Homo sapiens: one gene and its partners. The protein of the gene in region 1 interacts with the protein of each later gene in a pairwise test. Each region holds a gene or a part of one and is shown in the gene's direction. Other genes may lie near its edges.

Region 1 (8,690 bases):
TGCTTTAGCCCAGGGCACGGAGGTTACAGTGAGCCAAGATCACGCCACTGCACTCCAGCCTGGGCGACAGAGTAAGACTCTATCTCAAAAAAAATAAATAAATAAATTTTTTTTTGTAGAGATAGGTTCATCCTATGTTCCCCAAGTTGGTCTCAAACTCCTAGGCTCCAGCAATCCTCCTGAAGCCCTGGGATTACAGGTATGAGTCACCACATCCGGCCAGTTTCCTCATTTTTAGGTGGGGCTGGTAATAGTGCCTACCTTGGGGGGTCAGCTACAAAGATTCTGGGGCTCTGCTACTCCTTGGCTGTGTGACCTAAGACAAGTTACTCAGCCTCTCTGTGCCTCATCTTTTTCACCTGTGGAATGGAGCGAATCATCGCAGCTGGTGTGAAGATTAACAATTTGTATATAGGAGTTGGCACAGGGCCAGTCTGGGGTAAGAACTCAAACATCAGCCATTGTTGGCGTTGTGCAAAAGTACTTGGAACACCGCTGGCCTAAAGGAAGGTTTTCCTGGCCAGGTGTGGTGGCTCACGCCTGTAATCCCAGCACTTTGGGAGGCCGAGGCAGGCAGATCACGAGGTCAGGAGATCAAGACCATTCTGGCTAACACGGTGAAACCCCGTCTCTACTAAAAATACAAAAATTAGCTGGGCATGGCGGTACGTGCCTATAGTCCCAGCTACTCCGGAGGCTGAGGCAGGAGAATTGTATGAACCTGGGAGGCGGAAGTTGTAGTGAGCCGAGATTGTGCCACTGCACTCCAGCCGGGGAGAAAGAGCATGACTCCGTCTCAAAAAAACAAAAACAACAACAGCAGCAACAAAAGCAAGAAAGGTTTTCCTTAGTTAACACTTTCTTCTTCTTTCAATCTTTATCTCATTTAAGTCTCACCTCAATGCTGTGTGATGAGTGTGATCATCCCCATTTTACTAGACGAGGAGACAGAGGCTCAGCCAGAGATCATTGTTCCCCCGGTTTACATGGAACAGAAATGGCAGGGCCAGGATTTAAACCTAGATCTGCCTGGCTCCCCGCCCGGCTCCATCCCCTGCCCTCCCCCAACACACATAGTATTTACCGGGTGCTACCCTGTTCTAAGCCTTTTCTGGGGGATTATACAGTAATCCTCACCACAGCCTTAAAGTAGGGTACCCTGTGAGTCTCGTTTGACAGACTAGAAATCTGAGGTCCAGAGAGGTTACTTCTTGGCTCAGAGGGTCACACAGCTAGCAAATGACCCAGCTGAGATTTGTCCCTGCTGGCCTGGCTCCAGTCCCTGCACTGCCTGTGGTAAGCGTGTAGCAGATCCAGATCCAATGTCCAGCGTCGTGAGGCCAAAAAAATGGGGGGCAGGGGGAAGGCTCTGCTGCCCCTCGATCCTGTGCTGTTGAAATAGCTGGAGCTAGCACTTTGGAAGGCCGAGGCGGGTAGATCACCTGAGGTCAGGAGTTCGAGACCAGCCTGGCCAACATGGCGAAACCCTGTCTATACTAAAAATATAAAAATTACCTGGGCGTGATGGTGCACACCTGTAATCCCAGCTACTCTGGAGGCTGAGGCAGGAGAATCATTTGAACCCGGGAGATGGAGGTTTCAGTGAGCCGAGATCATGCCATTGCACTCCAGCCTGGGCAACAGAGACACTGTCTTTTTTTTTTTTTTTTTAGGGGATGGAGTTTTGCTCTTGTTGCCCAGGCTGGAGTGCAATGACGCCATCTTGGCTCACTGCAACCTCCGCCTCCCTGGTTCAAGTGATTCTCCTGTCTTAGCCTCCTGACAAGCTGGAATTACAGGCCCATGCCACCAAGCCCGGCTAATTTTTGTAATTTTAGTAGAGACACGGTTTCATCATATTGGTCAGGCTGGTCTCGCCCTCCTGATCTCAGGTGATCCGCCCTCCTGATCTCAGGTGATCCGCCCTCCTAGGCCTCCCAAAGTGCTGGGATTATAGGCATGAGCCACCACTCCCAGTGAGATGCTGTCTTAATTAAAAAAAGGAAGAAAGAAAGAAATAGCTGGAGCTTGGCACAGTGGCTCATGCCTGTAATCCCAGGACTTTGGGAGGCCAAGGCAGGAGGATCGCTTGAGGTCAGGAGTTCAAAACCAGCCTGGGCAATATAGGGAGACCCCCATCTTTACAAAAAACAACAAAAAGTAGCTGGGTATGGTGGTGCATTTGTAGTCCCAGCTACCTGGGACTTGGGAGGCTGAGGAGGGAGCATTGCTTAAACCCGGGAAATCAAGGCTGCAGTGAGTTACGACTGCCACTGCACTCCAGCCTGGGTGACAGAGTGACACCTGTCTTTTAAAAAAGCTAGAGTAGGCCGGGCATGGTGGCTGACGCCTATAATCCCAGCACTCTGGGAGGCCGAAGTGGGTGGATCACCTGAGGTCAAGAGTTCAAGACCAGCCTGGCCAACATGGGAAACTCCATTTCTACAAAAATATAAAAATTAGCAAGGCATGATGGTGGGTGCCTGTAATCCCAGCTGCTTGGGAGGCTGGGGCGGGAGAATCGCTTGAACCTGGGAAGCGGAGGTTACACAATGAGCCAAGATCGTGCCACTGCACTCCAGCCTGGGCAACAGAGCAAGACTGTCTTAAAAAAAAAAAAATGCTGGAGTAGTTAGGATATGAGTTTGAATTTTTATTTCCATGATTCAATCAGCACCTATTCTCCCAAATGCCTTCTCTGCGTTGGGCCTGTGCTAGGTGGCACTGGGGACACAGTGGAGACTGACATGGCCCCTGGCCGCCTCCTCCCTTCTTGGGGCTCATAGTCTAATATGGGACTGACCTGTCTCCCCACACTGATGACCCAGAGTTGGCAGGGCTGGATGTGGGAGCCCAAGAGCCTGGAAACCTGGGAAATAAGAAAGGGCTTCCTGGAGGAGGAAGCATCAGCACTGGGGCTCAGACAACAGGGAAGTAGAGGGCACGTTGGCTGCAATTCGGAGGGAGCGCGGAGCTGTGCCGAGTCTGGAGTTTGGTCCACGGACCAGCAGCGCCCTCTGCTGGAAGCATTTCATAGTGTAGTGACCGGGGTACCGCGCGCATTGAGCCATGTATGTATGTATGCATTTATTTATTTTTGAGATGGAGTTTCGCTCTTGTTGCCCAGGCAGGAGTGTAATGGTGTGATCTCGGCTCACTGCAACCTCTGCCTCTGGGGTTCAAGCGATTCGCCTGCCTCAGCCTCCCAAGTAGCTGGGATTACAGGCGTGCGCTACCACACCCGGCTAATTTTGTATTTTTAGTAGAGATAGGGTTTCACCATGTTGGCCAGGCTGGTCTCGAACTCCTGACCTCAAGTGATCCAGCCCCCTCGGCCTCCCAAAGTGCTGGGATTACAGGTGTGAGCCACTGCGCCGTCCTCAAGTTATATTAGAATCGTGTCCTCCCAGCTTTGGCCAGCTTACTATTCTAGGACTTGATTCCTTCATTCAGTCACAATTTATTGAGCACCGACTTTGCATCAAGCTCTTGCTGAAGATAACAGTGCTGACAATATACAGCCCTGCCCTCAGAGCTTATATAGTAGAGGAGAAAAAGTGAACCCATAATATACAGTCAGTAGCGAGTATTTACTAAGTACTTTCTATTTGCGAGGCCCTGATAAAAGTACTGTCCTGGCCAGGCGCGGTGGCTCACGCCTGTAATTCCAGCACTTTGGGAGGTCGAGGTGGGCAGATCACCTAAGGTCAGGAGTTCGAGATCAGCCTGGCTAACATGGGGAAACCCCGTCTCTACTAAAAATGGAAAAATTAGCTGGGCATGGTGGCGGGCGCCTGTAATCCCAGCTACTCGGGAGGCTGAGACAGGAGAATGACTTGAACCCAGGAGTTGCAGTGAGCCAAGATAAGATAGCGCCATTGTACTCCAGCCTGGGTAACACAGCGAGACTGTGTCTCAAAAAAAAAAAAAAAAAAAAAAAAGTACTGTCCCTGTATTAGTTAACATTCAATTCTCAAAGCCTTAGACTATTTATATTTTATTGACTAGGGAAACTGAGGCACAGAGAGGTTAAGTTACTTGCCCAAGGCCTGCACAGCAAGTAAGTGCCGGAATCAAATTTGAACCCTGAGCCCAATTCTTAGATATCACATTCCCTTGCCAATAACATAATATATAACATAACATAATGATGTGATATATGTTATATAAAATAACTTTAGGGGCCGGGGGCGGTGGCTCACTCCTGTAATCCCAGAACTTTGGGAGGCCGAGGCGGGAGGATCACTTGAGGTCAGGAGTTTGAGACCAGCCTGGCCGACATGGCGAAACCCCGTCTCTACTAGAAATATAAAAAGTAGCCGGGCGTGGTGGCAGACACTTGTAGTCGCAGCTACTCGGGAGACTGAGATGGGAGAATCGCTTGAACTTGGGAGGTGGAGGTTGCAGTGAGCCGAGATCGCGCTACTGCACTCCAGCCTGGGTGACGGAGCGAGACTCCCTCTCAATAAATAAATAAGGTAATTTTAGGCCCTGAAAAGTTTTGTGAACAAAATCAAGAGGAGTATGTAATGTTTTGGTGGAAGGGTGCCATTTAGAAGGGGGCAATCAGGGAAGGCCTGCCGGAGGAGGTGGCCTTTGAGAAGAGACCTAAAGACGATGAGATCTGTGGGAAGAGAGATCGAAGCAGGCCACACAACCAAGGAAAAGGCTCTGGGGCAGGCACTGCAAGAAAGCCACCTGTCTGGGATCTAAAGTTTCCAAAGTTTTAGCTTGGCCAAGGCCCCTGCGCTACAATCACCCTGATTCGAGGTGTCCTGGAGGTTACCAGTTCCGCGTGCGAAGTTCTGCCATTCCCGCGGGGCTGGAGCCCCGAGGCTGAACTTCCCACGGGCGGTGGGCGTGGCCGGCTCACCTGCGGGGGCGTGGCTCCCGGCTGCCCCGCCCCTCGGAGGAGCCGCCCGAGGTCCCAGACGCCCGGCGCAGCGGGAGCGGCGGGGCGTGCCTGGCCTGCGGGACGCGACTGATCGCAGTGGGGCGAAGCGGGGCCGGAGCCGCCCGCGGTCAGGTGGGTGCCGGGAGTGGGGCGCGGGACTCTCGGAGAGCCGCGATGATGGGGGGCGGGGGCAACCCTGGGCCCGCTCGCCCTGAGACGGGGAAGGGCCTTGGGGCTCCCGGATGCCCCCTGCCCCGTCCTGGGGCTCTCCGGGATCTGGAGGCCTGGCTGGGGTCCCATGCCCCCCACCCCAGCGCAGGTAAACAGCGAGGACGGGGCGGGGCCTGGGAGGGAGAGGGAGGGGGCCCTTGTGACTGCGGGTGAGCCTGGTGCGCGGGGCTGGGCAGGCCAGGGTAAGTTGGTGCGGCTTGCGGGGCTGGGCCACGATGGGAGTCTCCTGCCTGCCTGTGTTTGTGTGTGTGTGTGTGTGTGTGTGTGTGGCTTTGCGTGTGTGTAAGAGAGTGTGTCAGGCTGTGGGTATGAGGGTGAAAGCGACTGTCCGTGTAACCCTGTGATGGGACTGTGTGTATGATGTGACACTTTTAGCAATGTGAAAACGTGGGCGACCTCTGACTGGAATGGTGTGTGTGTAGAATTGGATTGCTGGTAGCACTTTACGACCAAGAGCTAGTGCGACTGTAGTCGACTTTCTGCTTGGCCTGATGTGCATGTGTGTGGCTGTGTGTGTGGCTGTCTTCATGGCAGAGAGTGGAACTGGTTGTAGGATTAGGTGTGATTGACCAAGAGGCTGTGCGGCTGTGGTTGTCTTTCTGCCTGTTGGTGTGTGTGTGTGTGTGTGTGTGTGCGCGCGCGCGTGTGGTGGACAGTGTGGCACTGGATCAGTGATAGGTGACTATGATTGACTTTTGATTGTGTGTCACTGTGATGGTGCATGGGGCTGGGCGGAACTGTGTCCAGAAGTGGAGCTGTTTCATGGGACGGTGCGCGTGGAACCTTGGGGTTGGATGAGTGAGGTGTGGAGGTGTGTGAAGCCGTGTGTGCGTGTGTGTGTGTGTGTGTGTGTGTGTAGAGAGGAACTAGAGGGTGTGTGATCTGCATTGATACCGTGGCTGGCAGTGGTGTGCAACGGAGAGTTTGTGGGAGATGGGAGTGGAGACGTGGACATTTAAGTGGGATGCTCCTCCAAGCGGGTGACAGGATGGAAAAGGGGGTCCGCGTCAGGGATCAGTGTGTGGGACTGTGCCTATGATTATCAGCTGTGCGGTTGTGCACCCGGGGCTCTGTGTGAGTGTGGGAGCTGCTGTGTGTCTGGGACACAGCCCGAGTGCTGGATGGCTGTGGTTGAGCCGTGTTTGTTGCTGTGGTTGTCAATCTGGCTGTGGAGTGGTGTGTGTAAGGCTGTGTCTGAGGTTATAGAGGGAGGTTTTACATCGGCAAAATTGTGTGAAGAATGGTTGTGGTTGTCAGGATGACTCTTGAACCTGTGTGGTTGTGAGTTCAACCATTTATGATGTTTGTGTGTGAGGTGTGAGAATAGGTATGGTGTGATATACACAAGCACACAGATTGGCCGGGTGCAGTGGCTCATACCTGTAATCTCAACACTTTGGGAGGCTGAGGCGGCGGGGATTGCTTGAACCCAGGAATCCTAGACTAGCCTGGGCAATATGGTGATACCCCGTCTCTACAAAAACAAAAATTAGCTGGGCATAGTTTAGTTTTTTAAAAATTAAAAAAAGGTTGGCTGGGCGCGGTAGCTCACGCCTGTAATCCCAGCACTTTGGGAGGCCAAGGGGGGAGCGGGTGGATCATTTGAGGTCAGGAGTTTGAGACCAGCCCGGCCAACATGGTGAAACCCCGTCTGTACTAAAAATACAAAAATTAGCCAGGTGTGGTGGCGGGCACCTGTAATTCCAGCTACTTGGGAGGGTGAGGGAGGAGAATCGCTTGAACCTGGGGAGGTGGAGATCGCAGTGAGCCAACATCATGCCATTGCACTCCAGTCTGGGCAACAGAGCGAGACTCAGTCTCAAAAAAATAAAATTAAATTTTTTAAAGGTTGATATATACATCACATATATACACATACATATATCTAGAGAGAGGGAGAGATCAATGACGATCAAGTCTGTGGTGCACAAAACGTACAGGACCCTTACTGTATGTGATCGTGCATGTACAACATGTGCAAAAACCGCTGGGCTGCTTATGGTGGATGCAGTGGCTTGAGTGAAGTGTGCGAGAACGTGGCATCCCTCCACGCGTATTCACAGCTCTCTGTTCCGACAGTGGAGCTGAATCTGAGTACTTGTGTGTGCATGGCGTGTAGGTGTGGGAGTCCCTGCTGGCCAGGCCTGGAGTGGGAGGGAGAGGAAGTAGGGAAACTGGCGAGGGATCCATAGTGAATCTTGGGAGTGTGTGCATCTGGAGGTGCGTTGGGCACATTGTGGGGAGTTGGCTGCTTGGGAGCCATGTGAGTTCGGGGGACAGCGAGTGTCACGGTCAAGTGCAAGGAGATGGTCTGAATGTGAGTGATTTGGGGAGTGGGAGAGACAGAGTTAGTTTCTGCGTGGGTTGGCTTTTCTTTCTTTTTTTTAAATAATATTATCACTTTTTGACACGGAGTTTTGCTCTTGTCACCCAGGCTGGAGTGTGGTGGCGTGATCTTGGCTCACTGCAACCTCCGCCTCTCAGGTTCAAGCAATTCTCATGCCTCAGCCTCATGAGTAGCTGGGGACTACAGGCGCATACCACCATGCCTGGCTAATTTTGTATTTTTAGTAGAGCCGGGGTTTCACCATGTTGGCCAGGCCAGTCTCAAACTCCTGACCTCAACTGATCCACCCACCTCGGCCTCCCAAAGTGCTGGGATTACAGGCGTGAGCCACCGCGCCCAGGCTTGGTTTTTATTTCTAAGAGAATATACCTGTGTGTTGGGAGTGTATACAGATTGTTTTTGAAAGAATAGTATATGTGTGTGCCTGAGTCAGTGTGTTGTCTTAGGTTGTATTTCTAAAAGGAAAATGTAAATGTTTTTACTGAGTTGTATATTTAATAGGAGAAAGTGAGTGCGTGTTCTAAGAGGAGAATGTATATTATGCTGTCCTTTCTTTCTTTCTTTTTTGACTGGGTCTTACTCTTTCACCCAGGCTGAGTGCAGTGGCACTATCATGGCTCACTGCAGCTTCAACCTCCTGGGTTCAAGCAATCCTTCTACCTCAGCCTCCAGGTACACCATCACCACACCCAGCTAATTTTTTTATTTTTATTTTTGTAGGGATGGGGTCTCACTATGTTTCCCAGGCTGGTCTTGAACTCCTGGGCTCAAGTGATCCTCCTGCCTCAGCCAAAATCCCAAAGTGCTCGGAGTACAGGTGTGAGCCACCGCACCCGGCCTACATTGTGTTTCTAATGAGGGAGTGTGTGTGTGTGTGTGTGTGTGTAACTGTATTTCTGGGAGGGTGTGTGTGTGTACCGTCTTTTTTTTTTTTTTTTTTAAATGAAGTCTCACTCTGTTGCCCAGGCTGGATTGCAGTGGTGCGACCTTGGCTCACTGCAACCTCCGCCTCCCGGGTTCAAGCAATTCTCCTGCCTCAGCCTCCCAAGTAGCTGGGACTACAGGCATGCGCCACCATGCTCTGCTATTTTTTTTTTTTTTTTTCCAGTAGAGACAGGGTTTCACCCTGTTGGCCAGGCTGGTCTTGAACTCTTGGCCTCAAGTGATTTACCCACCTTGGCCTCCCAAAGTGCTGGCATTACAGGCGTGAGCCACTAC
Region 2 (5,302 bases), on another chromosome or scaffold:
TCTAGAAACAGTGGGACTGTATCAGGATCAACAGAAGACTTCTTGACCCAAAGATTCAAATATAGAACTAGGAATTGATTTTCACATGTAGTTTTTAGGTAAAGGACATCTCTTTCAGTTGATTCCTACAGCCAAGACTAGCTTTGATCCTGGGAGATTCAGAAACCTCAAGATGGGTAGCTGGCTTGAGTAACATCCTAGATAATAGTCCCAGTCAAAAACCCCATTGAGGTTGAAGGACTGGAAACTGACCTGTGTGAAAAAGAGCTATCAGTGCAGGAAAAGACTCATGCTGATTTTGACCTTCCTCTGACCCTTTTCCCTCAACTGCTTGGTGGGGAGTAGCGAGGAGAAGGAGCATGTGGCACCCTCATTGGAGGCTGGAGCACTGCTGCAGAAAGTGATCTCTTACTCATACTTCAAGACACAGCCTAAGTATGACCACCTGTATGGACCCTTCCCTAATGCCCAGGATCAAGAAAAGAATGTGGCCACCTTCCAAGGCTCAGAGTAGCTGTGCAATGACTTGTGTCAAAACCCGATCCAGAGCAGCAGTGATGAAATCACCCTCTCCTTTAAGACCTGGCATTACAATGGCCTCATCCTGCATGTGGGCAAGTCAGCTCTCTGATGGATGGTGCAATTTCCTTGGTCATTAACCTGAGGTCTGGGGCCTTTAAAGCTATTGAGGAGCCAGTGAATGGAGAATTCGACAACGCCTGGCATGATTGAGGGTGACACATCACGGCAGATGATGGCTGAGGAGACATTGCCCAGAAGTCTCATCTTAGGTGGTTGAGTAGGAAGTTTGTGAAGCAGGTGGTGGGTGAGATGGAGTGGGTAGAGATTCAGGTATGGAGATGTCAGTGTCTAACTTTCTTCTAGTCTTTGCAATTTCACAAGGAAAATCACTAAAATGTGCGTCTCTTCATTTAAAAGAAAAAAAAGTTCATGCCAAAGCTGCTGGGACAAAGAGGACTCATGATAGTGGGTTATTCCACACTGTTGACACACTGAATGTATGCTGGCAGAAGGGCCTCAGGTGGAATGCTGGGCATGGGTTTGCCCCACAGCAGTCTGATTCAAAAGCACCTGAGAGATGGGAGGAGTACTAGGGTTACTAAACACAAGAAGGTGTTTCAGGAGAAACACATCAAGCCATTTGTTTTTGACCCTTAATACTTAACATGAATGATGAGTTGCAGAACAGTCAGTCTTTCCAAGATGTATTGTTCTATCCTCAATAGCTGCAGCCTCTCCAAGCCAGTGGGCTGGTGACATCCAGGATGATCCTCTTCCTTGCCTGGAGGTGGGATCTAGTGCCACAGCTTGTTCGGGGAAGCTGGCATAGAAGATGATTTGCTCAACAAAGTCACCGCTAAACTATCGCTTAGGTCTAGTCCCCGGCCTATGGCACCAAGTACTCCTGGTAGTACTTGTACACAGAATTTCTCTATAATAACCAGAACATGTCATCCATGGTAATGTCTGCTACATATCCAACCACAGCATCAAATTCTGTCTGATGAAGGGCACCAGCCCCTTCATCTTTATCATGCCTAATATTGTGAAGGCCATGTGCTAAATCCAGCAATCCGCTCCAGTAGGTGTCCTTCAGGATACTTTTCTGTCAAGTAAATACATTTATTAAAAATAGGCATGTAGCCGGGCGCAGTGGCTCACACCTGTAATCGCAGTACTTTAGGAGGCTGAGGCGGGCGAATCACGAGGTCAGGAGTTCGAGACCAGCCTGGCCAACACGGTGAAACCCCATCTCTACTAAAAATACAAAAAATTAGCTGGGCATGGTGGCGTGTGCCTGTAATCCCAGATACTCAGGAGGCTGAGGCAGGAGAATTGCTTGAACCCAGGAGGCAGAGGTGGCAGTGAGCCGAGATCGTGCGATCGTGCTATTGCACTCCAGCCTGGGCGACAGTGTGCGACTGCATCTCAAAAAAAAAAAAAAAAAAAAGGCATGTAAAAGTTAATCTCATGGAGGTAGAGAGTAGAATGACAATTACTAGAGGCTGGGCAGGGTGTGTATGTGGGATGAAGAGGTGGCTTGATGGACACAAACATAGATAGAAGGAGTGAGTTCTAATGCTTGATAGCAGAATAGGGTGACCATTGTTAACACTGTATTGGGTGTTTCAAAATAGACGGAATAAAGGATTTGAAATGTTCTCAACACATAGAAATGAGAAATACTCAAGGTCATGGGTATCCTGGATACCCTGAGTTGATCACTACACATTCTATGCATGTAATGAAATGTCACATCTACTTCAATAATATGTACAAATATTATTTATCAAAAAGCAGGCATGTAGGTGAGTTGATTTTCTTCCATGTCTTCAAACTCCTGGTAATACTTGTCCACAAAATTTCTCTATAATAACCGGAACATGTCATCCATGATAATGTGTACTATATATCCAACCACAACATCAAATTCTGTATCAGAGGCAGAAGAGAAGGACAGCATGAAGCTCGATTCCTCCAACTGTCCTTTGGCTGGTGGCCCTCCACCCTGCCCACAGCCCGGCCAGCTCAGCCCCGTCTCTGTCCCATACAGAGCCACAGCCACAGTGAGAGCCTGGCAGCCTGCCCGGAGGAGGCTTCTTGGCCCAGCCCGGTCAACACCCACATGCACCACCACCAACTTTTTGCTATTGTGAATAACATAGCTGTAAACAGATTGCATATGAAAGTGCTGTGAAATCACCAAGGGCTGAGTAGAACAGTTAAGACGATAGTAGTTGTTTTCTTTCTGGGTTTTTCTCTTGGGCTGGTTTTTGAAAGTGGATCTACAACATTGATAGAGATCAGTTTTTCTGCTCTTCCAACATACTGCCAGGACGTGGTCCAGAAAGATTGGGTACTTTGCAATACTCATAGCAATATGTGAAGTGATTGGAAAAAATGAGACTATTCAACCAGTTGTTTCAGTGTTGGTTAGGAGGAAAATGCCCAGAAAGGGGAACAGTTAATCATCTACACAATACCAAGAGCAGGAGGGGATGACCGACGGCTTCATCTTTCCTAGTCTATCCCACACAGACCTTTAGGTGCTCTTTTTTTTCTTTTTTTCGCTCTGTCGCCCATGCTGGAGTGCAATGGCGCGATCTCGGCTCACCACAACTTCCACCTCCCAGGTTCAAGCGATTCTCCTGCCTTAGCCTCCTGAGTAGCTGGGATTACAGGCATGCACCACCACGCCTGGCTAATTTTTGTATTTTTAGTAGAGACGGGGTTTCTCCATGTTGGTCTGGCTGGTCTCGAACTCCCAACCTCAGGTGGTCCACCTGCCTCAGCCTTCCAAAGCGTTGGGATTACAGGCATGAGCCATCGCACCCGCCTCTTTAGGTGTTCTTTTAGGAGCTGGTAGCGGAGGAAGGTGGTTACCCATCTGTGACAGAGCCTTGGATGTCACGAGGCCACAGGCTGGCCTTTCCTCCTGTTTACAGGAGGTGAGTTTTCCTGAGTTCCCAGCCTCAGTGTTCTCTGCACAGTCTGTCACTGACTCCCGCTCCCAGTGCTCACTGCCTCTTGTTCTCACTGCCTCCTGTTCTCACTGCCTCCTGTTTCTGCTGAGTTCTTTGCATCTGCCTGATGTTGGTTTAAAGCTCCACCCCTCCCAGGGGAATTTGTCCCATGATTCACCTCCTCTTTGGTGATCTCTTGATTGCGGCTGCTGCAGCCATGTAAACCTTAAAGGCGAGCCAATTTGTTTGTGATCCAGTGGCCAAAATGGTTCACCCTCAACTTCCCTTAATCCCCTGCAGCATCTGAGACACATGGGTGAATGTATGTAAGGTACTTGGGGCTAACCAAAGTTAAATACATATGACAAGTACCTGAATCTAGATAATCTAATGGTAAGATATCGTTTGCTCTCTGGACTTCATGGGCTCACCCCAGCAATGGGGTGCCTGGAAATGAAGAGATCTTTCTTGTGTCTCATCCTCTGGGCTCCCAGCCTCCCTCAACATCATGACCTCCATCTGTAACACCCACCATCCTGGAGCAGCATCCTGGATATTGGAACTCTGAAGTCTAACCTAAGAGAACAAGGACAAGCCTCTCTATGAAAGGTTTGCCCTTCCAGATCCAGTTGAGCTCTGCTCTGGAGCCAGACTCTCTGAAGCATAGCCCAGCTCTAGCTCTTACCAGTTATGTGATCAGGAATGAGAGTTAATGTTTCTATGTTTCTGATTCTTCATTTGTAAAATGAGGATAATAAAAATTTAACTTCAGAGGTTTGTTGTGAGGAATAAAAGCCATTAGCACAGTGTTTGGCATATAGAAAGTGCTCAGTGTTGGGGAATATTGAACAGATAATGAATATCGCCAAGAGTCTTTTCCTGGGTGATTGATAGAAATTATCTTACCTCCTGCTCTAATGAATGTGGCTCAACTATTTAGGCCATAACTGTAATTATATTTGGTTATATGGCCCCACAGCATTAAAATTCATACAAGAAGAACTTCACTCACACATAGTAACTGGAATGCAGTAGATGTGGATAATTTCTTTAAAAAGCCTAAATCATATGGGTGGTTGTTTTTTCATAAACAGCCTAGGCTTAACTTCAGTTTCTCATCTACAAAAAGGGGACTGTACTAGGGTTCTCCAGAGAAACAGAACCAATAGGTGGTATCTTGAGAGTTATAAGGAATTGGCTCATGCAATTATAGGGGCTGGGAAACCCAGGACCTGCAGTGGTTATGCTGGAGACCCAGAAGAGCTGAAGATGTGGTTCCAGTCTGTCTGAAGCCTGAGACCCAGGAGAGCTGAAGACATAGTTCCAGTCTGAGTCTGAAGCCTGGGACCCATGAGAGCTGAAGACGTGGTCCCAGTCTGAGTCTGAAGCCTGAGACCCAGGAGAGCTGAAGACGTGGTTCCAGTCTGAGTCTGAAGCCTGAGATCCAGGAGAGCTAAGGACATGGTTCTAGTCTGAGTCTGAAGCCTGAGACCCAGGAGAGCTGATGGTGTGGTTCCAGTCTGAGTCTGAAGCCTGAGACCCAGGAGAGCTGAATACGTAGTTCCAGTCTGAGTCTGAAGCCTGAGTTCCAGGAGAGCTGAGGACATGGTTCCAGTCTGAATCTGAAGCCTGAGACCCAGGAGAGCTGATGGTGTGGTTCCAGTCTGAGTCTGAAGCCTGAGACCCACGAGAGCTGAAGACGTGGTTCCAGTCTGAGTCTGAAGCCTGAGACCCACGAGAGCTGAAGACGTGGTTCCAGTCTGAGTCTGAAGCCTGAGACCCACGAGAGCTGAAGACGTGGTTCCAGTCTGAGTCTG
Region 3 (6,969 bases), on another chromosome or scaffold:
AACAGTAAGTACCAACATGCTTTTACAAGTATATTGTTTAGTTTATAGCATTTATCACTCATATGTTTATACATGTTTTTCACTTTATATTTTGAAACTCTCAAGGGCAGGAACTATGTCTTGTTCATCTTTGAGACACAGAATGTAGTCAATATCGAGTAGATGTGCAAATGAATGGATAGGACTTGGCTGATAGCTCATTATTGGACTTTGAAGGTGTGTTAACTTTGTTCAAAGCACTGACTGAGAGTAATTTTTAGTCTGTAACAGTAACTCCTGGTTCTTAAGGGAAGTATCGGGGGAGGGGAATGCTGAAAATCAGGTCAACATCATGTACACAGGCCATGTGCGTGTGAACGTGTGGTGGGTCTGAAGCATGAGTGAACAACTGGATTCAGCTAGAAAATTAGATTGTAAACATATTTCAGAGGGCCTTGAAGGTCACACTAACCAGTTTGCACTTCTAGTATCATTGGAGCACAATTAAGTTTTAGAGAAAGAGAGAAACTTGTAATTTAGGTCCCTGTCTGGTGGCATTATGAAGTCTGAGTTGGAGAGAAATTGGAGTCAAGGAAACTAGTTTAGGAAACATGTCATTATCCAAGCCAGAGAGAAATGAAGGTCTGAATCAGGGCTCTGGGACTAGAAGGGAAGAAAAACATTTTAGATACTGCACGCATAGAATCAGTTGCCTTTTACAACTGAAAGAAAGCAAGCCAGTCATGGAAGAGGCCTCCTTACCCTTGAGTTTCCTTAGAGCACTGGTTCCCTGGATTCATATGTGTGTGTGCATGTGCGTGAACGTGTGTATGACAGTCATGCTCTGCATAAGGATGTTTCAGTCAACAGTCAACTGCATATATTACAGTGATCCCATAAAATTATAGTATGGTATTTTTACTGTATCTTTTCTATGTTGAGACGTGTTTAGATACACATATACCATTGTGTTACACTTGCCTACAGTATTCAATACAGAAACATGCCATAAGGTTTATATGCTAGGAGCAATAGACTATACCATATAGCCTAGGTGTGTACCATCTAGGTTTCTATAAGTATACTCTATGATGTTCACACAATGACAAAATTAACACATTTCTCAGAATATATCCCCATCATTAAGCGGTGCATGACTAGGAACCTGGTAAGGTAAAATAATGGGTGAGGAGAGACAATTTTGCATTACCTTTCTCCAGCTCTTTCTTTAGTGTGCTGTGCTCTCAAGTATTTTCTCTCAGGTACCAAAACCTGTTAAAATGTCCACCTTTTATACTTCTATACAGATGGGGTTATGTCCCAATAAACCCATCAAAAACTGAAAATATTATTAAGTCTAAAATGCATTCAACACCTCTAACCTACCAAACATCATAGCTTAGCCTAGCCTAAAACATGTTCAGAATGTGTACACTGGCCTATCATGTACAGTTGAGGAAAGTCCCTTGGCAGCACAGTACACTGTAGAGTATCGGGTGTTTACCCTCATACCCCATGGCTGACTGGGAGCTTTGCTCACTGCCACTGCCCAGCATCACAAGAGAGCATCGTATCACATGTCACTAGCCCAGGAAAAGATCAAAATTCAGCATTTGAAGTACAGTTTCTACTGAATGTCTGTCACTTTCACAGCATTGTAAATTTGAAAAACCTTATCTAGCCATCATAAGTCAGGAACTGTACTGAGATTTCCTTATACCTAAAACAAACAGTAAAGTTAATCTAGTGTATCCACGGTAGATATGGTATTTCTAAGTGTTCTTTTTATCAAAATATTCTGCTCAGAGCTAAAACAAGTCCAAAAGGCCACATTTTACTGTTTTTAAGTCACTGAGCGACTGATGACCTTATTTTCCTCATTCTAATATTTCTTGCTTTGGTTCTATGATACAGTAGTAATCTGATTGTTTAATAGCATGGAAACTATCAATATATTACAGGTTAAACGATTAGGAGAACAAGGGGAATTTTTTTTTTTTTTTTTTTTTTTTTTTTAAGATGGTGTCTTGCTCTGTCGCCCAGGCTGGAGTGCAGTGGTGCAGTCTCGGCTCACTGCAACCTCCGCCTCCCGGGTTCATGCCATTCTCCTGCCTCAGCCTCCCAAGTAGCTGGGACTGCAGGCACCTGCCACCACACCCGGCTAGTTGTTTGTGTTTTTAGTAGAGACTGGGTTTCACCATGTTAGCCAGGATGGCCTTGATCTCCTGACCTCTTGATCCACCCGCCTCGGCCTCCCAAAGTGCTGGGATTACAGGCATGAGCCACCACGCCTGGCCAAGGGCAATTATATTTGCATCAAGTGTATAAAAAGCCACCTCTTAGGAAGTTAGGAGACTGATCAATCGCCAAATTAAACATTGATTCCTTATTTGCCCATAGGCCCTACCACAGGTATCCAGCTTGGTTTGGCAAAGGAAGGAGCATAATTATCTGAGCTCTATTATTTCTTAATTACTAATTCTAATACTTAATGATTTCCCATTTATTGTAACTTGATAAGCATACCTAGATGTTCTTTGAATCAACTTTTGACACAAAGGAAAATGTGAGTTTTAATGCTGTCTTTAAAATCTCAGTAGTCAGAAATGCTCATGAGAACATTTTGTCTTGGACATTCACAGTTTCTTTGTCAAATATACTCATTTACTAATTTGCCATTCAAAAGCTAGTGCTTGTGTGAAACTAAGAAAAAGTCTAGAAAGAATTCATTAGGCCAAAGTTTAAAAGGCTCATTAGTGGATCAGTGAGAATGTTGTTAGCTTCAACTAAGAAATTTGAACTCAAAACTGGCTTAAACATTATGTAAATTATAAAATAGGAAGTCCATGGTAGCACAAGCTTCAGATTTAATTGATTCAGTGGCTAAATCATAATTGTGAGAAAACAGGTTTCTTTCCCCTCTTAACTCTGCTTGGTGTTAACTTCTTTCCCAGGCAGATGGCAAGATGGCTACAGCACTTTCAGGTGTCTTACCCAATACGGCAGTATCCTGAGGAACTGCCTTCTTTAAGGGCTTTCTCTCAAAAGATGTGAGGAAGCTTTTTCCAGAAGCTCTCCTCTTAATCTCCAGCAGACCTCTCCTTTACTCATTGGCCAGAACTGGACCCATGCCCATTTCAGTCACTGACAAGACCGGGAAGCCATTGGCTTGGGCCACACAGAGAAGTAGTGGATAGGTAGCTGCTTGCATAAACAACCACAGTGTCTACTATAGTCAGTCCAGGGTGTGTGTATGTGTGTTTTCACCCCTTGGCCTCATATACCAGATTCCGTTTTTCCTTTGTCTGTTGTCACTTCACTTGTTCAATACCCTAGGATGGAAAGGTTATGAAAAAAAACTAAGCAGAAAATCCCCAGAGCACCTCTTTCCGAAATCACTCAGGCTCATTAGCAGCGGGTAGTTGATGGGAAAATATGTATTGCCAAGGATGAGCATGTTGCTGCAATATTACTATTATATATTGTTAACGTCATCCTCTTTAGAGGGTAACTTGCAGAATATAAGGTAGATGTTGGTTACAGACAGTAATTGGTATTGGTAAATTGGTTGGTTTTTTTTCTGTCAGGGTTCCCAAGGCTGTACATAATTTGTACAGTATTTTATAAAGAAAAAAAAATGATGCTTAGATTTTTCTAAACATTACCTTTTTTTTTTTAATCTAGAGCTTTTCTGGAAAAAGAAGAAAAGTTCAACCACCTCAAGTAAGTTACTGCATTTTCATTTTGGTTTCTGAAATAGTTTGATTAGTTTTATACCTTTCTTATTAATAAAAGTTTCTACTATGGTTGCTTTTAGGTCATACCCTGGTAAAATTTAGGACTGAAGAAAAGGGCAGTATAAACTAATACAGTTGAATAGAAAAATTATTTTAAGGGCATGGAATGACTCAGATAGGTTAAATAAATAAAACCTTTGTCCTGCTTTTAGTAGTACAAGGATGTGTCATTCACAAAGTGCTTAAAAATAGTAAGTGCTCAAGTAATTTCAGTCTCCCCCCATCCCTTCCTTTTGTGAACACTTCTAATTAGCAGCACCTAGATCAAAAAGGGTGTTTGGCAGAGTTTGACTTCAGCCAGCCCTGTCTAAAGTGCTACTTTACTAATTAGTTGAACCTTAAATAGTAAGGCTTTGCTAGAATTTAACAGTGGTAATGTGAATTTAAAGTTGGAGAAAACTTTCTGATTTTTAAGAGTAGCATATTTTTTTCTTGTAAAATTCTGAGTAAGTTTTTTGATAGCAGCTATTTTTTCCCGAAGTAAATTATTATAGTTGATCCCTCAAGAGAGAATTTCTAAGTATTTTAAGCAGCTATTTTTAAAGTTAACTAACTTTTTTTACTATTGATTATGAGAATAATCAGGTTTTTAAAAGTTATTCTCTTATGTAGTAAACTGTAACACTTCGTTGCTGCTTTAAAAATACAATTCACATAACATAAAATTCATCATTTTAAAGTGGCTATTAGTATATTCACTATGTTGTGCAACCATCACCACTAAGTCTAGAACATTTCCATCACTGCCCCCCCAAAACCCTGTATCTATTAGCACTCAGTCCCAATTTCCCCTTCTCTTTACCCCCTAATAGCCACTACATAATACTTGTGTCTAAATTAGAAATATTAATATATAAGTGAGGGTGTTCACATAGGTAGACTTGAATAAATCCAATTTTTATTGGAAGGTAAAAGAAGTATTTTCTTCACTATTTTCCACTTCAGGTTAACTTTAGTAATCAACATAGAAAGTTTTCCATTAAAAGGGATAGTTGATGTCTCAAATGATTTTTTTCTCCTGGTAGTAGTATAATTAGCATTTTTCTTCTTCTTTCCAACTTTTACTTAAGCTCAAGGGTTTTTCAGCTTTGTTACATGGGTAAATTGCATGTCATGGGGGTTTGGTGTACAGATAATTTTGTCACCCAGGCAATCAGCATAATACCCAATAGGCAGTTTTTCAGTCCTCTCCCTCCTCCCATCTTCAAATAGGCTCCAGTGTCTAATAATCAGGCTTTTTTTTTTTTTTTAACTTATTCTTTCTAAGTATAAAAGGTTCAGGAGAGCTTAGTCATTAGAAAAGAGAAAAAGAAATATTTAAGCCTTGTTATTTTATGCCTTTAAATTTATGATATAGTCAACATATATAGTTGCTCAGTTTTAAGATTATTCTCATGAGGGAAAAAAACCATTTGATCATGCTTTTGAATATTTTAAATATTTATAGTTCATTTGGCACTTTATCTGCATTAAGATACTTCAGAATCTTATTCAGCAATTTGTGTCGTTATTGTTTACAGCAGAACTATTCACTGGCTGAACTTGATGAGAAAATTAGTGCCCTCAAACAAGCCCTCCTCAGAAAATCAAGAGAAGCAGAATCCATGGCAACCCACCACCTTCCATGAAAAACTCCTCTCATCCTTGTCATTTTACTTTTTTGTATACATATGTGTAACTTACACTGTTATTAATTCAACGGATATATATTTATCAATGTAGACTTCTCTGTGAAGTCAAGGTTTATTTTCACATGAGTCCAGCTTGCAGCAAGTAATCTTCAAATATTCCAGTAAGTTTTGAAATAATGAATGCATTGAAAATAGCATTGTTGGAATTTATTCCCTTCTGTTTTAAAGGAGGTATTTTGGAAATTGAAAAACTTAATTTACAAGTGCTGGTACATCTTTTTTCTTTTGTGGACCACAGGAAGGAAGATTTATTTTGATATTGATACTTTAAAAGGACTTTATATTTGTAACATTGATGTTAACCAGTTTATTAGTTTAAATCAGTACTTTGCATATAATAAGCATTCAACAAAAATTTATTGACTGAAATGAATTTTAAATGCATGTGTATGAACTTGTTTTTCTTAATCTTTAAGATGTCAGTATTCATGTAAATAAACAATAGATCCAGCTTTATCCCTTTGACGGTGTGACTTTGATCAATTTACTTAATCTGTCTTTGTTCTTATTTCCCAGTCTGTGAAATGGGAATGACAATAGTAGAGACTACCTTATTGATTGTTACGAAGAAGAGGTGAGATCTTGCATGTTTGAAACTGTCTGTCCCAAGGGAATTGCTCAGTAGATGTTAGCTAATATTATAAAACCAGGTCTGTTTTTGGACAGCAATTAGGATATTACAAAGAAATTATAGTACCTCTCTTTTGAGAGCCTCCCCTTTACAATACCCCAGTTACATTAGGCAGTACATACATTACCACAGTTATAAATTAAACATTTGAAAGATGCAGCTACAGTTATGTGGAAATTCTTTCATGGAGCAGTTGTTCAGGTCAATAATTGTTTGGTGGTTCACTCCTGTAATCTCAGCACTTTGGGAGGCTGAGGTAGGAGGATCACTTGACCCCAGAAGGTCAAGGCTGCAGTGATGCACTGTATTCCAGCCTGGGTGACAGAGTGAGACACTGTCTTAAAAAACAAACAAAAAAGGTTTGGTTGCAAGAATCAGAAATCTACCAAATAGCTTGGAAAAGAGTTGTTGCTAAAAAGGAGCAGAAATCTGGAACTTTATTGCAGGAAGTACAGTGAAACACTGTAGGATCTAGAAAGTCGCCAGCAATTAATCTCTTTCTGTGTCTCTGACTGCCTCTCATTCTTTGTCTCTGTCCTCTACTCACCTTGTTTTCTGCTCTCCCTCTCCTTTTGTCTCTGTTACTCTGCCTTTGTTTTTTAAATCTTACACATAGTCATCTATGTACCTACTATATTATCTTTCTGTGGACTGGTTTCTCTGAAGACCTTTTTATCTCTGCTTCCCCACATGGAGTGACATGTTAGTCCTGTCTTCATTAGTCCTGTCTTCAGAGCCTCGGCTTGTTGTGTTTGAGCTGCTATGGTGCAAACTCTGAACTCAGCTCTAGAACTTCACAACTCCAGTGACTGCTGCTTACCTCATGTTTTGTGTTTCTTAGCTCATATTCTCCAGAGATTAAACCAGACTC

The links. The genes of interacting proteins can lie anywhere in the genome.
Region 2: the proteins of KLC3 (region 1) and PEX26 interact in binary tests that used the Homo sapiens proteins (3 or more experiments, as listed by UniProt).
Region 3: the proteins of KLC3 (region 1) and MBIP interact in binary tests that used the Homo sapiens proteins (3 or more experiments, as listed by UniProt).

Annotation. Positions count from the first base shown.
Region 1 is NC_000019.10:45,335,821-45,344,510, forward strand, and holds the start of KLC3 (kinesin light chain 3), read left to right. Parts: upstream 1-4,929; 5' UTR 4,930-5,026; intron 5,027-8,690. UniProt on the Homo sapiens protein: Kinesin is a microtubule-associated force-producing protein that may play a role in organelle transport. Plays a role during spermiogenesis in the development of the sperm tail midpiece and in the normal function of spermatozoa.
Region 2 is NC_000022.11:18,101,141-18,106,442, forward strand, and holds the end of PEX26 (peroxisome assembly protein 26), read left to right. Parts: 3' UTR 1-4,256; downstream 4,257-5,302. UniProt on the Homo sapiens protein: Peroxisomal docking factor that anchors PEX1 and PEX6 to peroxisome membranes. PEX26 is therefore required for the formation of the PEX1-PEX6 AAA ATPase complex, a complex that mediates the extraction of the PEX5 receptor from peroxisomal membrane.
Region 3 is NC_000014.9:36,297,518-36,304,486, reverse strand, and holds the end of MBIP (MAP3K12-binding inhibitory protein 1), read left to right. Parts: intron 1-3,663; coding exon 3,664-3,702; intron 3,703-5,296; coding exon 5,297-5,404; 3' UTR 5,405-5,923; downstream 5,924-6,969. UniProt on the Homo sapiens protein: Inhibits the MAP3K12 activity to induce the activation of the JNK/SAPK pathway. Component of the ATAC complex, a complex with histone acetyltransferase activity on histones H3 and H4.